Linked DNA regions of Homo sapiens. The protein of the gene in region 2 interacts with the protein of the main gene of each other region in a pairwise test. Each region holds a gene or a part of one and is shown on either strand. Other genes may lie near its edges.

Region 1 (7,497 bases), on a different chromosome or scaffold from region 2:
TTTCAACATTCAGGCCACCACATGACTGCTGGGAATACCCCTCCCCCCTTTGTGGACTATGTTTCCCGTCCCCCACCCATTTTATGGCCACAAAGGAGATCTGGCTTTGTGCTCAGCCCTGAGTCACCTGCTGGAGACTGCTACCTACTAAAATCAAGTGGGCTGGCTTCTGTGCTTAGTGCATATATCTAAATATCTGCAAAATTTAGACTCTGGCCTGATTTTAAAATGAAACGGAGTTCTCCAGTTAAACCAGATTTTCAGGGAAGTTTGTATCTGCTTTTGTTTTTATCCGGTTAACAGTATAAGTGAAAATACATATGTAGTGCAAAGGTTTATGAGAAATAAACCACCGTGCTTGTGGAGGTAGACAGGTAATTTTTAAGAGGTTTAACATGATCTAATTAGGGATGACACTTTGATCCCATTCTATTACTTTTGCTAATGAACAGTGCTGCTTTTAGATCAACACGAGTGTCCAAAGGTAATAGTAAAACTGATTCCCATATTTCTTAGTTATAAGCATAATTTGACTGCCAATGACAAGAGTAATTTATTTAAAATAACAAGACCATTTATTCACTATATTTTTGATAGGTTAAGTTTATCTTGTCTTAGATAGAAATATCTATTGTCTCTATTTATTCACAGTGAAAAATATTGATATAGAATTATCAAGAACTGTCCCACCAGGAAAGATGTAAGTCATCAGCTCAGCAGGACTTTCAGGATAAAAAAAAAAACAAAGCAAAACAAAAAACAAAAACACTCACACACAAAAACACCTCCTGTGTAACTTTACAGTGTTTACTCTGTGTTTAAGCACTTGGAATCCTTCCTTTTCTTCCCCATAAAGCCCAAGAGACTGCACAAAGGAAGTAAGGCAAGCAAAGCTGGAGAGGGCACGGTGGAATCACAGGTATGCGTGAGACAACGCATGCCAAAAAAAAAGGAAGAGGAATTCCAGAAATGACTCTGTGAAGTGAGAAGCAATAAAGAGGGGCAGAAATGACACCAAAGGAAGGAGCTGAAAGTAAGTGGGTAAAGCAGGAACAATACCTGCCCCTAACTCCTATATCCCTCCAGAAAAGTCTTACAACACCCTGTGAAGCCAAACGGCAAAAAAAAAAAAAAAAAATTAACTTCTATAGGTGTTTTTAAAAGATGCACATGAAAAACTCCCAAGGTGCTAACTGTAGAACTAAACACAGCACAAGCAGGAGGGCTCAACAATTTTTACTAAGTATGAAAGTATTCAACTTTAACTGCAGTACATGGTAGGTATTGATATACACAGAGTATGTGCTCTAGTACCTAAGAATGCACTAAAGTCCAATAACATTTAGGGACTGCGTTTGGCTTGTCAAATGAAACTCTTTTTCAGCATGTGGAATAGGCTTCATGCATATGGAAATTCTCAGATGCAGCATTTCTCTGGTACTATATGAAACTTTTAAGCTCGCAACCCTATTCCAAGGTCCTTTTTAAGTAACCTGCCACACCTCTGAAGGAAAAACTTAGGGAAACTCTATATTGTAAAGAAACAACTACACTATATATGCAAAATGTGTACCCCGCTCACCCAGAAAATATAGTTGAAAGGCTTTGCTGGGGGTAGATTGGAACAAGTGTACACTTGGGGTTCTCTGAGTTGCTCAAGTTTGGCAAACATCAGCAAAGTTCTAGAGAGCTTTTGAAATTTCAGATCTACCCATCTTTGTATTCAAGATCATTAATTCTGGGTGAGAGCAAAATTTCCAGCCAAAGAATAGTCACAACGTGCCTCACCCAGAAACTAATTCTTCAGACACATACCTGCCTGCTGAAGTCACCCTTTCGCAAATATAGAACACACCATATATGTACATAATTAAATGTATATGTAAGAAGATTCATGCCCAAAAGGAAGGCTTTATGGAACCTTTTGCAAAGTACCAGTTTAAACACTGTGAGGCTTTAGAGGAGTTGGAGAACTGAAAACTCTTCTTGTTGAATATTTCATAAATATAATTTATTTAACTTGAACCTTCATCTGAAAAGCTTCCCTTTCCCCCTTAAGAAATTTTTACCAAGAAGAGTAAGCTAAAGCTATTGCATATTTTTGGCAGAGAAAAGTAGATTAACTTTTGGTATATTTAGTGACCACCATGAGCACATCTGAACGCAGCAGCAGCTAACATGTGAGAGGGCATGATCTGCCCAATTATTACAAGATTGCATTTCCTCATGCCATCTCTAATCAGAGGAAAAGGTTTAAATTAGCAGCAATCTCAAGAATGTGAATCAAGTCTGGGCAGAACTTTTGTATCTGACTCAGTGTAAGACTGTTTAGTTCTTGTTTCAAGTAGTCTGCACAACAAATACCATGCCTGCAAATATGCAACAAACACTCCCAGGAAGAATATGTTTGTTTCTTCCATGGATTCAGGTAATAGGAACTATGAACAGATCTTATAAAATTTTGTGGGCATTTATGTGTTGCTATTAAAATGGAATAAAGATTTTCTATTTCTGGGGGCAATGTAGATACAAAATTAGAAAGTCAGACAGGTAGATATGTTTGGCCTTTAAATAAAGTTTAGCTTTAAACTCCTAATCTTATTGAGGTACTTAAAAATATGTAAGAATCAAAATATTTTACTGACAGTGGAACCATGGTTAAGTCAAGAGCTTTAGGGAAAAGAGTATATGTATATGAATATGCCTAAAAGTAAATAGGGATAATGGATTCAAGTTTTTGTTTCATATGATATCTAAGAATCAGATTTCTTGGAGTAGAATCCCATGAGTGAATTCATCTTTCCACAAACTATGTCATCAGGCTCATTTTTCAAAACCAATGTGCACAACACCTGGTCAAACTTCTGCGTCAACTACATTCCGTGTCAATAAAATGTTTGCTTTGCCAAGGGAGACTCTGAGAAAGTGACCAATATGTAGCAACTGAGAAGTCATTTAAAGGACATCAGAAAATGACTGAGCCACGACTAATTCATTTGGCAGAGCCCGCCAGGCACCATGAGCTAACTGGAGAAAGTATTGGTTCTTGGTGTCATATTTACATGCAAAAGAACTGGATTAATGAGGAAACATCTGGTTATTTCGGGTGTTATCAGAATGACCAATTTGGATGCTTCATTGAAATGTGCAACTTAGCAAGAAACCAGATTGGAAAAAAAACAGCACTAAATGCGGCTAAAAAAAAAAAATCTACAGACAGATGTAGACTTAGAAAGAGCATTCATACTGCCCCCTCCCCTTTTTAGGAGGTTCCTTGGTTTAAATGGAAATTACTGCATGGTGGACAAATCTCCAAATGCAGTTTTATGTACTGCTTATTGGAAACCACCATACAAACTATCTGTTTTACCTTAACCCAGGTCTTTTACATAAGAGTTTCAGTGTGAAAACTCGTTAAGAATTAAACCTAGTTTTGAAACCCTAAGCTCCAATGGATCATTACTACCTGATGAAATGCTTGGTTTCCTGCAATTTCACAGTTGATATTCAAATCCCAAGCATCCATGCTTCTCTGGCTCCTTCATAAATTCTTAACCTCTTCCTTTCTCCAAGAACGTTAATTTAAGTTATAATTCTCAGCTTCCAGAATCTTGTTTTATCTGAGAGCCACTAAATGTAAGCGAGTTTCCACGTGGAAGAAACGTTAAAAACTTCTTAGAACTTAGTCAACTTCTAGAAAGGAAGGGAATTGTGGTGGGCCTCAATGACCATTAAGTCATGAGTTAGGGAGCCTGGGCTGCCCTTGTGGCCTTCAAGAACTCTTTGGATCTTGTTGCTCCTTGAAAAATCCAGGTTTAGAACCTCCGGGCTCACCATCCTATAAACAGGTATTACAGCACTAGACAGGAGGAAGTCTTTCTATGTCCTCTGTTTGTCCTGTGGGTATTCAAAGAAGGTTGTCAGGGAAGAAGGATGTCTTTACCCTGTTCAAATCTCAGTCTACTGGCATCTCCTCTCACCTAAACACCTGACACTTAATCCGGGCTTCTCATTTGATTTCTTTTGTTAGTTTGGGAAAGCCTGAATATTTTAAATTTTATTGTCACTCATGTTTTCACCATGTCTGTCTTATCACATGGTGAAACTGTGAGTACCTAAGGGCAGAAGCTGCTCTCACCCAGCTCTGTACTCCTCCCATAGCATCTAGCAGATTGTATGCACACAGAAAGCACTAAACCATGTTTACTGGTTTTATAATCATTTTTATGTCTTGTCTAGATGTGTTCATTTATATGCTAAATCACCAAAAAAAAAGGGGAGGGGGAGAGAGAGAGCAGTGATCCCCTTTTAAGCTGCTTTTCTGGATTAATTATATACTAATCTCCAATACTGCTGAACCATTTCCATCCCTGTTAAGAAATATTTCATTAGAGAGCTTGTCACCAAGACCATTCTTCATACTTGATGTACAATAATCTAAATATAACAGCTTAGATAGACTTCTGTTTATAGAGAAGTTTGTCCTCATATTAAGGCCATTAGGTAACTAAGATATTTTTCCTCTCTTTTTCTCTAAGAAATAAAGGATACCACCTTAAGTGTTAGTAATGCTAAAAACTAAAATAGGAAGTACTAACTTTAGCACTCAGGGCTTAAAAGAAACTTGGATCATGACAAGATTCGAAAGAGTGTTCATGAGGCAATAGCATAGTTATTGTGGGGAATTTAGCAGCTGAATTGAATATGTTAAAAGTAATAATAAGCCTTAAATAAAATGTGCATTAACTTGCCTTGGTTAAAAAGCTGGAATGAATGATTATTACTCCCTAAATCACATGTGCTGAAATTACACTGCAATCAAATCTCTTAGGAAAAGATACAGTGATCCTTAAATGACTACATTTCTATTATTAGTAGGCATTTGGCTTCATGCTACAAATTACTTCTATGCTTGGCAAATGTGGCCAATTTTGAAGCACAAGATATTAGAATTACTTTGGTCTTACTTATTACTTCACAATTGAAACTATTACCCATTGTTTGGCAGAAACTCATTGGGTGAAATTTGAAAATCAATGGGAGCATTTCTGCAACTATTAAGAATGTTCATTTTATAATGAAAAATATTTTTTAGGAAAATGAAGAAGTTATGGGCCTTAAAAATTCCCTCTTTTAGATGATTCCTACAGCATTTTTACAAAGGTTTTGTTTACTTTTGTTGGGGGGGCTGGAGTACTGTAGCCCTAAGAATTGACTGGCAAAATGCCTTTTGTAGTTGCTTTAACTGGTGTGTGCAATGGGCGGGGGTGGGGGGGGCGGTGCGGGGGTAGCTGTTTCCTATCTGAAGAGGATCCAGAGGATCTATAAGCCCTAGGATGTCTGACAAAGGAAAAACATTGCAACCAAGTGGAAAAGGGCACTGGGGTTCAAGGACCTGACAAAATTAGGTGCATCATGAGTTGTTAATGAAATACACGCTAAACCAGAAGAGCTTCTTTTTCTCCATTACCCCACCTGAACTGTCTGCTTCTTAGGAGCAGGACCATGCTTAATTAACACTGTATCTCTAAGGTCTTGACAGAGGGCCTGTTTATAGTGGATGCGGGAAAAAAGGAAGAGATGGATGGAGAAAGGGAGAAAGGAAGGAAATATTAAGTTACTGTGCCTTAAAAAGCAGGAAATTATTTTTTTTTCTTGGTGCAAAGAGACTTCACATATCCTACTTTCACTTGGTAGTCTTTCTCACATCCAAATTGGCAGAGTTTGCCTATGCATGATCATGACTGCTGGGGGCAAAAGTAGACCCCTTATGAGAAGCTGTCCAACTAAAGAGGCCAGATAAGAGAGGAACTGTTTCTGTCTTCTAAATGGTTGCCCTTCTGCTAGGAGGGTAAACAGGACAGGAAATATCATTCAAAGGACAATGTTCATCCCGTATCTCTCCCTATATAAGAGCAGTCAGGCACACCCAATTTTTCCTATATAAGTCTCTTTCACAAAGTTCTAGGAGGGAAATAAAAAGTGCAATTTATCTGACATTTAGAACTTTACAGACTTGGCTGGGATCTTTTCTCCAGAGTTATATTGATGGCCTTTGGAAAAAATAAATGTATCAAGAGGCATAAGGCATATGCAATTATTTTTACAATCTGAACTAAATAAATGTTTTAGTGGGCAAAGAAAATGTCAAACATTTACCAAAAAATAGTCCTGTCCAGAAATTTGCCATGAAAAGCTTGGAATTAAATGGAAAAATGTTAAAGATCCTTGAAATAATTAGTTGCTGATTCAATGGTTCCTGCTAGATATAAACAACAAATCACTTTTGATGGAAACAGGCTATTCTTAGAATTTAAGTAAGCAGTGCTTGGTGACTGTGTTTAACTAACTAACATTTCACCTCATGAACAACATAATGGAATTCTAAATAATTCCCTTATGCCTCTTTTTTCCATTTGTTTAAATCTAAATTCTAACTAAGATTTCATTACCGGATAATTTTGCAGTACAAAATTTTCTTCATCACATTTTCAAACCTTTATATTTTAGTTAAACATACATAAGTTTTGGTTTCATTAAATAAAAAGACAAGTGATTATTTCACTACAAATTCATTTCAGATGATTATCTTTAATTCGATGAAAGGCAATGTTTATAAAGTTGCCATTCTTTGTGCACAGGTAATTCAGTGTGAATAAATGTCAGGGAACCTCATCTCCTTGGCAACTATGCATATCATTACTCATTTACTCATTCATCAGATTTTATTGGATAACTGCTGTATGCAAGGCATTGTGCTATGTGTGCAGAGTCTACGAACTGCAGAGTTTTGATTAAATGCATGAAGATACCTGAAGTGGTATTTACCTGCACATACGAAGGACAGCCTCCAACTACAAACTGCCCACATTTTGGTTTATGTTCTAGCCTTTATCAAACAATGTGCCTTTTCTCCCCTAAAAGAATCAATTTAGCCCTTTAGGCATCTATTCCGAAATATCCATTGGTGGTCCTGTCACTCTTGAAGCTTGAGATAGGAAATGTATAGCCCAGCATTCCTATAAGCCCACCCATTCCCCCTCCCTGTCCAGATGGGTTTCATTCCTAAATCCACCAGGAAGCCTGGCTCTGCCCAGAACCTGGCTTGCTTTGCAGGCTGTGAAAACCCCAGCACGGGATGCCAGATCCCCTAAGACTAAGAGCTGAAGCCAACCAACATCCTGGGAAACAAAAAGACCTGCCTGTCCAGCGTAATAAAGCCAAGAAGTGTACAGCTGGGAGAGATCCTGCACATCATCTAGCTCAGTGTCCTCTTTTTACAGATGATGAAAATGAGACCCAGGGAGATAGGGGATTTGCACACAGAAATCCATGGTAACCAGGAGCTAAGATCTAAACACAGCTTTGTATCAACGACTGGTTCAGACACACTGCTCCACCCCGTGCCAAAATAATTTTTATCGTGCATTAGGTCCAAACAGGGCTGCCGGTTGGGGCAGGGAGTACTGGTGCTTATTATCGGTACCACACCAGCTG
Region 2 (7,623 bases):
CTGCTCCACCCAAATCCATACATTGAAGCCCTAGCCCCCAATGTGACCATATTTGGAAATAGGTCCTTTAAAGAGGTAATTAAGGCACGCTTTTCATCTGTCCCGCTGAGTGTTTGCCTCTTGATCAGGAACTCCTGCTTCTCCCTGCCTCTAAATGGACCCCAACTGCTCCTGCTCGCCTGATGGTTCCTGCGCCTGTGCCGGCTCCTGCAAATGAAAAGAGTGCACATGCACCTCCTGCAAGAAGAGCTGCTGCTCCTGCTGCCCTGTGGGCTGTGCCAAGTGTGCCCAGGGCTGCATCTGCAAAGGGACGTCGGACAACTGCAGCTGCTGTGCCTGATGCCAGGACAGCCCTGCTCTCAGATGTAAATAGAGCAACCTTATAAACCTGGATTTTTTTGGTACAACCCTGACCCATTTGCTACATCTTTTTTTCTATGAAATATGTGAATGGCAATAAATTCATCTAGACTAAAAAAAAAAAAAAAAAAAAAGGTAATGAAGGGTGAGCATGGTGACTGATGACTGTAATCCCAGCACTTTCAGAGGCCAAGGCAGGCAGATCACTTGAGGCCAGGAGTTTGAGACAAGCCTGGGCAACAAGGCAAAACCGTACCTCTAAAAAAATACAAAAGAAAAAGTCCGGGCATGGTGGCTAATGCCTGTAATCCCAGCACTTTGGGAGGCCAAGGCGGGCGGATCACCCGAGGTCAGGAGTTCAAGACCAGCCTGGCCAACATGGTAGAACCCCGTCTCTACTAAAAATACAAAAATTAGCTGGGTGTGGTGGCAGGCGCCTGTAATCCCAGCTACTTGGGAGGCTGAGGCAGGAGAATCACTTGAACCTGGGAGATGGAGGTTGCAGTGAGCAAAGATCGCGCCATTGCACTCCAGCCTGGGGCACAAGAGCGAGACTTTGTCTCAAACAAACAAACAAAAATACAAAAAAAAAAAAAATTAGCCAGGCGTGCTGATATGCACCTGTAGTCCTAGCTCCCCTCGGGGCTGAGGCAGGAGGATTGCTTGAGCCTGAGGAGGTCGTGGCTGCAGTGAGCTGAGATCACACCACTGCCCTCTAGCCTGGGTGACAGAGTGAGGCCCTGTCTCAAAAAATAAAAGAAAAAGGTAATCAAGGTTAAATGAGACCATAAGCATGGAGCCCTAATCCAGTAGGACTAATGTCCTATTTGTAACAGAGGAAGAGACACCAGACATGTATAAGCACAGAGAAGAGGCCATCTGTAAGCCAGGAAGAGAGGCCCCACCCAGAAACCAACTCTGCTGGCACCTTGATCTTGGACTTCCAGCCTCTAGAACTATGAGAAAATAAATTTCTGTTGTTTAGAGTACCCAGACTGTGGTATTTTTGTTACAGCAGCCTGGGCTGACTCATATAGACCCCAACTTCAGAACTGCCTAGTGCTTTTGTCAAATCTGCAGGCTCACAGACCTACCCAGCCCCTGACACAGAATGTCGGGGTTGGATGTGTGAACCCCAAATATCTGAGACAGGTCACAGTCAATTTAGAAAGTTTATTTTGCCAAGGTTAAGGATGTGCCCGTGACAGCCTCAGGAAATCCTGAGACATATACCCAAGGTGGTCAGGGGTACAGTTTGCATTTAAGTTTTAGGGAGACATGAGACCTCAATCAATATGTGTAAGATGTACATTGGTTTGGTCTGGTAAGACAGGACAGCTTGAAGCAGGGGCTTCCAGGTTAGAAATACATAAGAGACAAGGCCAGGTGCAGTGGCTCATGCCTATAATCCCAGCACTTTGGAAGGCTGAGGTGGGCGGATCATGAGGTCAGGAGATCCAGACCATCCTGGCCAACATGGTGAAACCCCGTCTCTACTAAAATACAACAACAACAAAAATTAGCCGGACATGGTGGGGCATGCCTATAGTCCCAGCTACCTGGGAGGCTGAGGCAGGGGAATCACTTGAACCTCAGAGGCAGAGGTTGCAGTGAGCCGAGATTGTGCCACTGCACTCCAGCCTGGGCGACAGAGTGAGACTCTGTCTCAAAAAAAAAAAAAGTAGATAGGAGACAAAAGATTGCATTCTTTTGAGTCCTTGATCAGCCTTCCACTGAATACATAATTTTATTTATTCAGCTCTGTCACCCAGGCTGGAGTGCAGTGATATGATTCTGCTCACTGCAACCTCCACCTCCCAGGTTCAAGCGATTCTTCTGCCTCAACCTCCAGAGTAGCTGGGATTACAGGCGCCTGCCATCACAGCCAGATAATTTTTGTATTTTTAGTAGAGACAGGGTTCACCATGTTGGCCAGGCTGGTCTTGAACTCCTGACCTCGGGTGATTTGCCCGCCTCAGCCTCCCAAAGTGCTGGGATTACAGGCGTGAGCCACCGCGCCCAGCCATTTTTTTGTATATTTTTAGGGATAAGGTTTTGCCATGTTACCCAGGCTGGTCTCAAACTCCTGACCTCAAGTGGTCCACCAGCTTCAGCCTCCCAAAGTGCTGGGATTACAGGCGTGAGCCACCGCACATGGCCCCAAGAGGACTTTACATCTTCTCTGGGTTGCAGATTAACAGGCACGTTCATTCTGCCAAGTTGCTTCATTTTCTCACACGCTCACTGAGCCCTCCACGAGCCAAAGATGGGTGGATGTGAAGTCTGGAAATCCAGAAATAATTCAGATCAGAGCCCTGCCACTGAGTGACTCCTGGCCCATGGAGAGAGCTCTGGACAGCTGTGAATCTCCCTGACTGGGCAGATGTGACAGCTGCAGGAATGGGAACCATGTGACCTGGGAGTATGGGCAAAGGATTCCACCTGCAGAATCCTGTAGGAATGGTTATTCATCTGGTTTTTCTGCCTAGCCACAGCGTGAGCAAGTTGAGAGAAAGCACCTTGTCTTACACATCCTCATCCCCTCTCTTAGACATAATGGGCCTTAAAAATCTGTGAGTTCGTAGTCCTCTGGCTGCTTTCTGCTTCCCTAGGAACAGCCCTCCTAGTGGCTAGGGGCAAAGTTTTAAAAACACAAAACCCAAACTGGCAGAACAGATAAGTACTTTAGAGTCAGGTAAGTGTGGGTTCTTTTTTTTTTTTTTTTTTTTTTTTTGACAGGGCCTAGCTCTGTCACTCAGGCTGAAGTGCAGTGGCATGATCTCGGCTCACTGCAACCTCCATTTCCCGGGCTCAAGCAATCCTCTCATCTCAGCCTCCAAGTAGCTGGGACTACAGGCGTGCACTACTGTGCCCGGCTAATTTTTGTATTTTTTTTTTTGTAGAGGCAGGGTCTTACTATGTTGCCCAGGTTGGTCTCAAACTCCTGAGCTTAAGCAATCTGCCCGCCTCAGCTTCCCAAAGTGCTGGGATTACAGGCGTGAGCCACCACACCCAGCCAGCTGTGGGTTCTGAGTCGGTTTCACACTGACTAGCTGTGCGGTGTGACCTCAGACAAGTCACGTTATGTTTCTGAGAGTCTTCGTCAGTACAAGAGGGTAATACTATTTACACAGGTTTGTTTATAGAATTAAATCAGGTGACCCCTGTAAAGTCCCCACTGTCTGGCACTTGGGTGGCCTTAGGTAAAGCTTAACTCCTAAATTATTCCTTTCAAAACAGTGATTTGCCCTACTTGAAGGCATTGCGGAAAGATAATGGTAAAAATTAAATGTAATAGACAAACTCTCAGTAATGACCCACCTGCACTCTTTCCAACCAGTGGGCATTTACTGAGCACCCACCTTCTGGGTAACAGGCCTGGTGTCCAGTGCTGGAACGGTGGAGAGGAGCTCAGAGTTTCAGAGCTGAAAAGTCAGCTCCAGGAGAGCAGGGACTTCTTGTTGGCCACTGTATTCCCAGCTAGGTGCTCAGTATTTGTTGAATGAATGAATGAATGAAAAATACAATCCAGCGGGCCTCTGACTCATTTTTTAAAACTTGAGCCAAGTCCCTTGACCTCTCTGAGCTGGTGTGTGTCCCCATCAGTGAAGCCAGAGATGTTTAAGTCATCTAGAGGTCCTGCCAAGCAGGATTAATAGAGCAATAATATTAATAATAGCAACAATCATAACTAAACATATGGAGCACTGCTATGGAGGGAATAACATGTTACGTCCACGTTATAGAAGAGGAAACTGAGACACAGAGAAGCATGAAAGGCTCCTGGAGGGGGGGTTTCATGATGTTTTGGAAGAAAGACTAGGGATCGGACGGAGTCATAGAGAAGAGGATCCACAACCCAGAGGAAAAGGCCTAGTCCAGAGCCACCGCGCGGCGCAGGCTGCGGACGTTGTAGGAGGGACGAACGCCTCCCGGAACCCGCCCAACCCAACCTCCGGCGTCTCCATGGCAACAACCTCCGCACATGCGCCGCGCGCACCTGCGCCGGAGCTGCCAGCACGCGCAGAAGGCGGACGCAGGCGGGGCGGAAGTGGGCCCGGCGGGCTGGGGCGGCGGGAGTGCGGGTGGGCGTTTAAAGGGGCCTTCGGCACCCAGGTCGGTTCGCCGCCGGGACTGCTGACGGGGAGGGCTAGGTAGCCCTGGGAGTCGGGATCTAGAAGGTAGAGGAGAAGCGGGGCTGTCTGACCCCCGGAGGTGACAAGGGGAGAGGGGCTGTGTGAATACCCTCCATGGGCAGTAATGGGATGACTATCCCCAGGGAGCATTGCGAAGGAGAGAGGCGGCTGAGGGACTGCACTTTCTGGGGCCCCCCGGGAGAGTCAGAGGGCAGTTAAGAGGGATCACAGGCCCGGCTTGGTACTGTCACTCCCCTTCCCACTCCCTGCTCTCAGCATTCTGTCACCTCCCTACCCCGTCGCGGTGCCCAGCCATGGCCAGACCTCCCGTGCCCGGTTCGGTGGTTGTCCCAAACTGGCACGAGAGTGCCGAGGGCAAGGAGTACCTGGCTTGCATTCTGCGCAAGAACCGCCGGCGGGTGTTTGGTAAGTGCCTCCCCCTTTCCTCTAGCCCGCCACTTGTCTTTCCCTGGGGAGAAGAGTGTCACCTGTTGCTCCCTGAGGAGAGCAGAGAGGCAGGGCAGTGAGGGCCTGCTCCACTGCAGTCTTCAGCAGTCTTCAGCCTGGGGGACTGAAAGCCCTAGCTCTGGGACCCCCACACCTAAATCTCCTTAGAGCTAATTCCATCGTCAGAGCCAGGAACATGGAAACAGCAGAAACCTTGCCAGCAACCACTGTCACCAGAGATGCAGTTGATTGAGCACTCCCCTGGTGCCAGGCCCTCTGTTGGGCACGTTACACAGTGCACGCCCATTTAACCTCTCAACAGCACATGGTACAGACTTGGCTAAGATCACACCCCAATAAATAGAGGTGAGCCTCTTCCATGTCCTGCTGTCTCTGGGATGAGACGCTGGTGTTCCCCATGGTGAAACTGACTCACCCAGGCAGGGCCCAGCTGTCAGGCCGGCAGAGGTGCCTGGAATCAGCTGTGGAGCCCAGCTCTGGCCAGGAGAAGCAAGGTGCCAGAAGACTTAAGACCAGAGAGTGAGATAGCTAGAACCAAAATTTGTGAATAAGTCAACTGTTTGTTTGTTTTTTTAAAAGAAATTATATTAAATTCAAAAAATGACCCTCTAGAAGGCTGGGCGCAGTGGCCTGTAATCCCAGCACTTTGGGAGGCCGAGGTGGGCAAATCACCTGAGGTCAGGAGTTCAAGACCAGCCTGGCCAACATGGCGAAACCCCATCTTTACTAAAAATACAAAAATTAGCCGGACGTGGTGGCGGGCACCTGTAATCCCAGCTACTTGGGAGGCTGAGGCAGGAGAATCGCTTGAACACAGAAGGCAGAGGTTGCAGCAACCCTAGATCGAGCCATTGCATTCCATCCTGGGTGACAAGAGTGAAACTCCGTCTCAAAAAAAAAAAAAAAAAAAAGACCCTCTAATATGGCCACTGTCCCTCTAATCCCATGATGGCTGGCAACACTGTATTTGGGGTCACACATACCCAGGCAAGTGACCCAGGCTCCACCACTGCTAGCTGTATGGCTGGGAATAAGTGAACTCTAGCCTCAAGTCCCACCTCTGTAAAATGGGGATAATCACAGTATTTACCCCATAGAGTTACTGGGGAAATTAATAAGGAGGGTGTTTGTAACATACCAAGCAGGTTCTGGCATGCAGTGGGTGTTCACTGAAGGTTGGCTGTTATTGTATTTATTTTGCATTTAGTTGTGTTGAGTGGAAGAGAATTGAGTGAAGGTTGAGCTGATTTTCTGGGAACATCATAGAATCCACTGACCATATTATCTATGCCACAGATAGGATTAAGCAGCCATAACTTAGAGGAATGGCAGTGATGGCTTTTAATTTTTGTGTTTTTACTTTAACTGCAGACATTTGGGTTTTTTTTTAACAGCTGGGTTTATGCACCTGAATGTATCATTCAGTGGTTGTCATGCAGGCCCCACAACAAACGCTGAGAGCAGCTAGTAAATAAATATCAACAGACTGACTATAATGCTTAGGCTAGTCTCTTTGTATCCCAGACTTCTGTAAAATTAGGTTGAGTATTAAGAGCCACAGATGAGGCCGGGCACGGTGGCTCACGCCTGTAATCCCAGCACTTTGGGAGGCTGAGGCAGGCAGATCACCTGAGGTTGGGAGTTCGAGACCAGCCTGACCAACATGGAGAAACCCCATCTCTAAAAATACAAAATTAGCCAGGCATGGTGGCGCATGCCTATAATCCCAGCTACTCGGGAGGCTGAGGCAGGAGAATCACTTGAACCCGGGAGGCGGAAGTTGCAGTGAGATCACACCATTGCACTCCAGCCTGGGCAACAAAAGCGAAACTCCGTCTCAAAAAAAAACAAAAAAGAACCACAGATGGTTGGTTAGCCCTGAAGAAGCCATTAGAAATGAGGTTGTCCTTGGCTGTATGTGGTGGCTCATGCCTTGTAGTCCCAGCACTTTCGGAGGCCAAGGTGGGAGGATTGCTTGAGCCCAGGAGCTCAAGACCAGCCTGAGCAACATAGTGAGACCCCATCCGTATTAAAAATAGAAGGTAAAGAAAAAAAGTAAAAATAAATAAGTGAGACTGTCCAGCCCAGGATCTGATGGGGCAAGTGCAGGATTTACCCGCGTCTTAGTCCATTTTATGCTGCTACAACAGAATACCACACTCTAAGTTATTTATTTATTTATTTTTTGAGACAAAGTCTCGCTCTGTCGCCCAGGCTGGAGTGCAGTGGTGTGATCTCGGCTTAGCAACTTCCACCTCCCAGGTTCAAGCAGTTCTCCTGCCTCAGCCTCCCAAGAAGCTGGGATTATAGGCACCCACCACCACACCCAGCTGATTTTTGGTATTTTTTTTTGTAGAGATGGAGTTTCACCATGTTGGCCAGGCTGGTCTCGAACTCCTGACCTCAGGTGATCTGCCCGCCTTGGCCTCCCAAAGTGCTGGGATTACAGGTGTAAGCCACCGCACCAGGCCTCCTCTGTGTAATTTATAATGAACAGAAGCTTATTTGGCTCATGGTTCTGGAGGCTGGGAAGTCTAAGAACATGGCAGCAGCATCTGGAAAGGGCCTTCATGCTGTGTCATCCCGTGGCAGAAGGCAGAAGGGCAACAGCAAGACAGCAAGAGGCGCCCAAACTGGCTTTTATAACAAACCCACTCCC

What was found. Proteins that work in one complex are often made in the same cells at the same time.
Region 1: the proteins of CPLANE2 (region 2) and RND3 interact in binary tests that used the Homo sapiens proteins (3 or more experiments, as listed by UniProt).

What each region holds. Positions count from the first base shown.
Region 1 is NC_000002.12:150,477,460-150,484,956, forward strand, and holds part of RND3 (rho-related GTP-binding protein RhoE precursor), read right to left. Parts: intron 1-7,497. UniProt on the Homo sapiens protein: Binds GTP but lacks intrinsic GTPase activity and is resistant to Rho-specific GTPase-activating proteins.
Region 2 is NC_000001.11:16,233,930-16,241,552, reverse strand, and holds the start of CPLANE2 (ciliogenesis and planar polarity effector 2), read left to right. Parts: upstream 1-4,369; 5' UTR 4,370-4,810; coding exon 4,811-4,922; intron 4,923-7,623. UniProt on the Homo sapiens protein: Required for efficient primary cilia initiation, regulating a late step in cilia initiation. Plays a role in the final maturation of the mother centriole and ciliary vesicle that allows extension of the ciliary axoneme.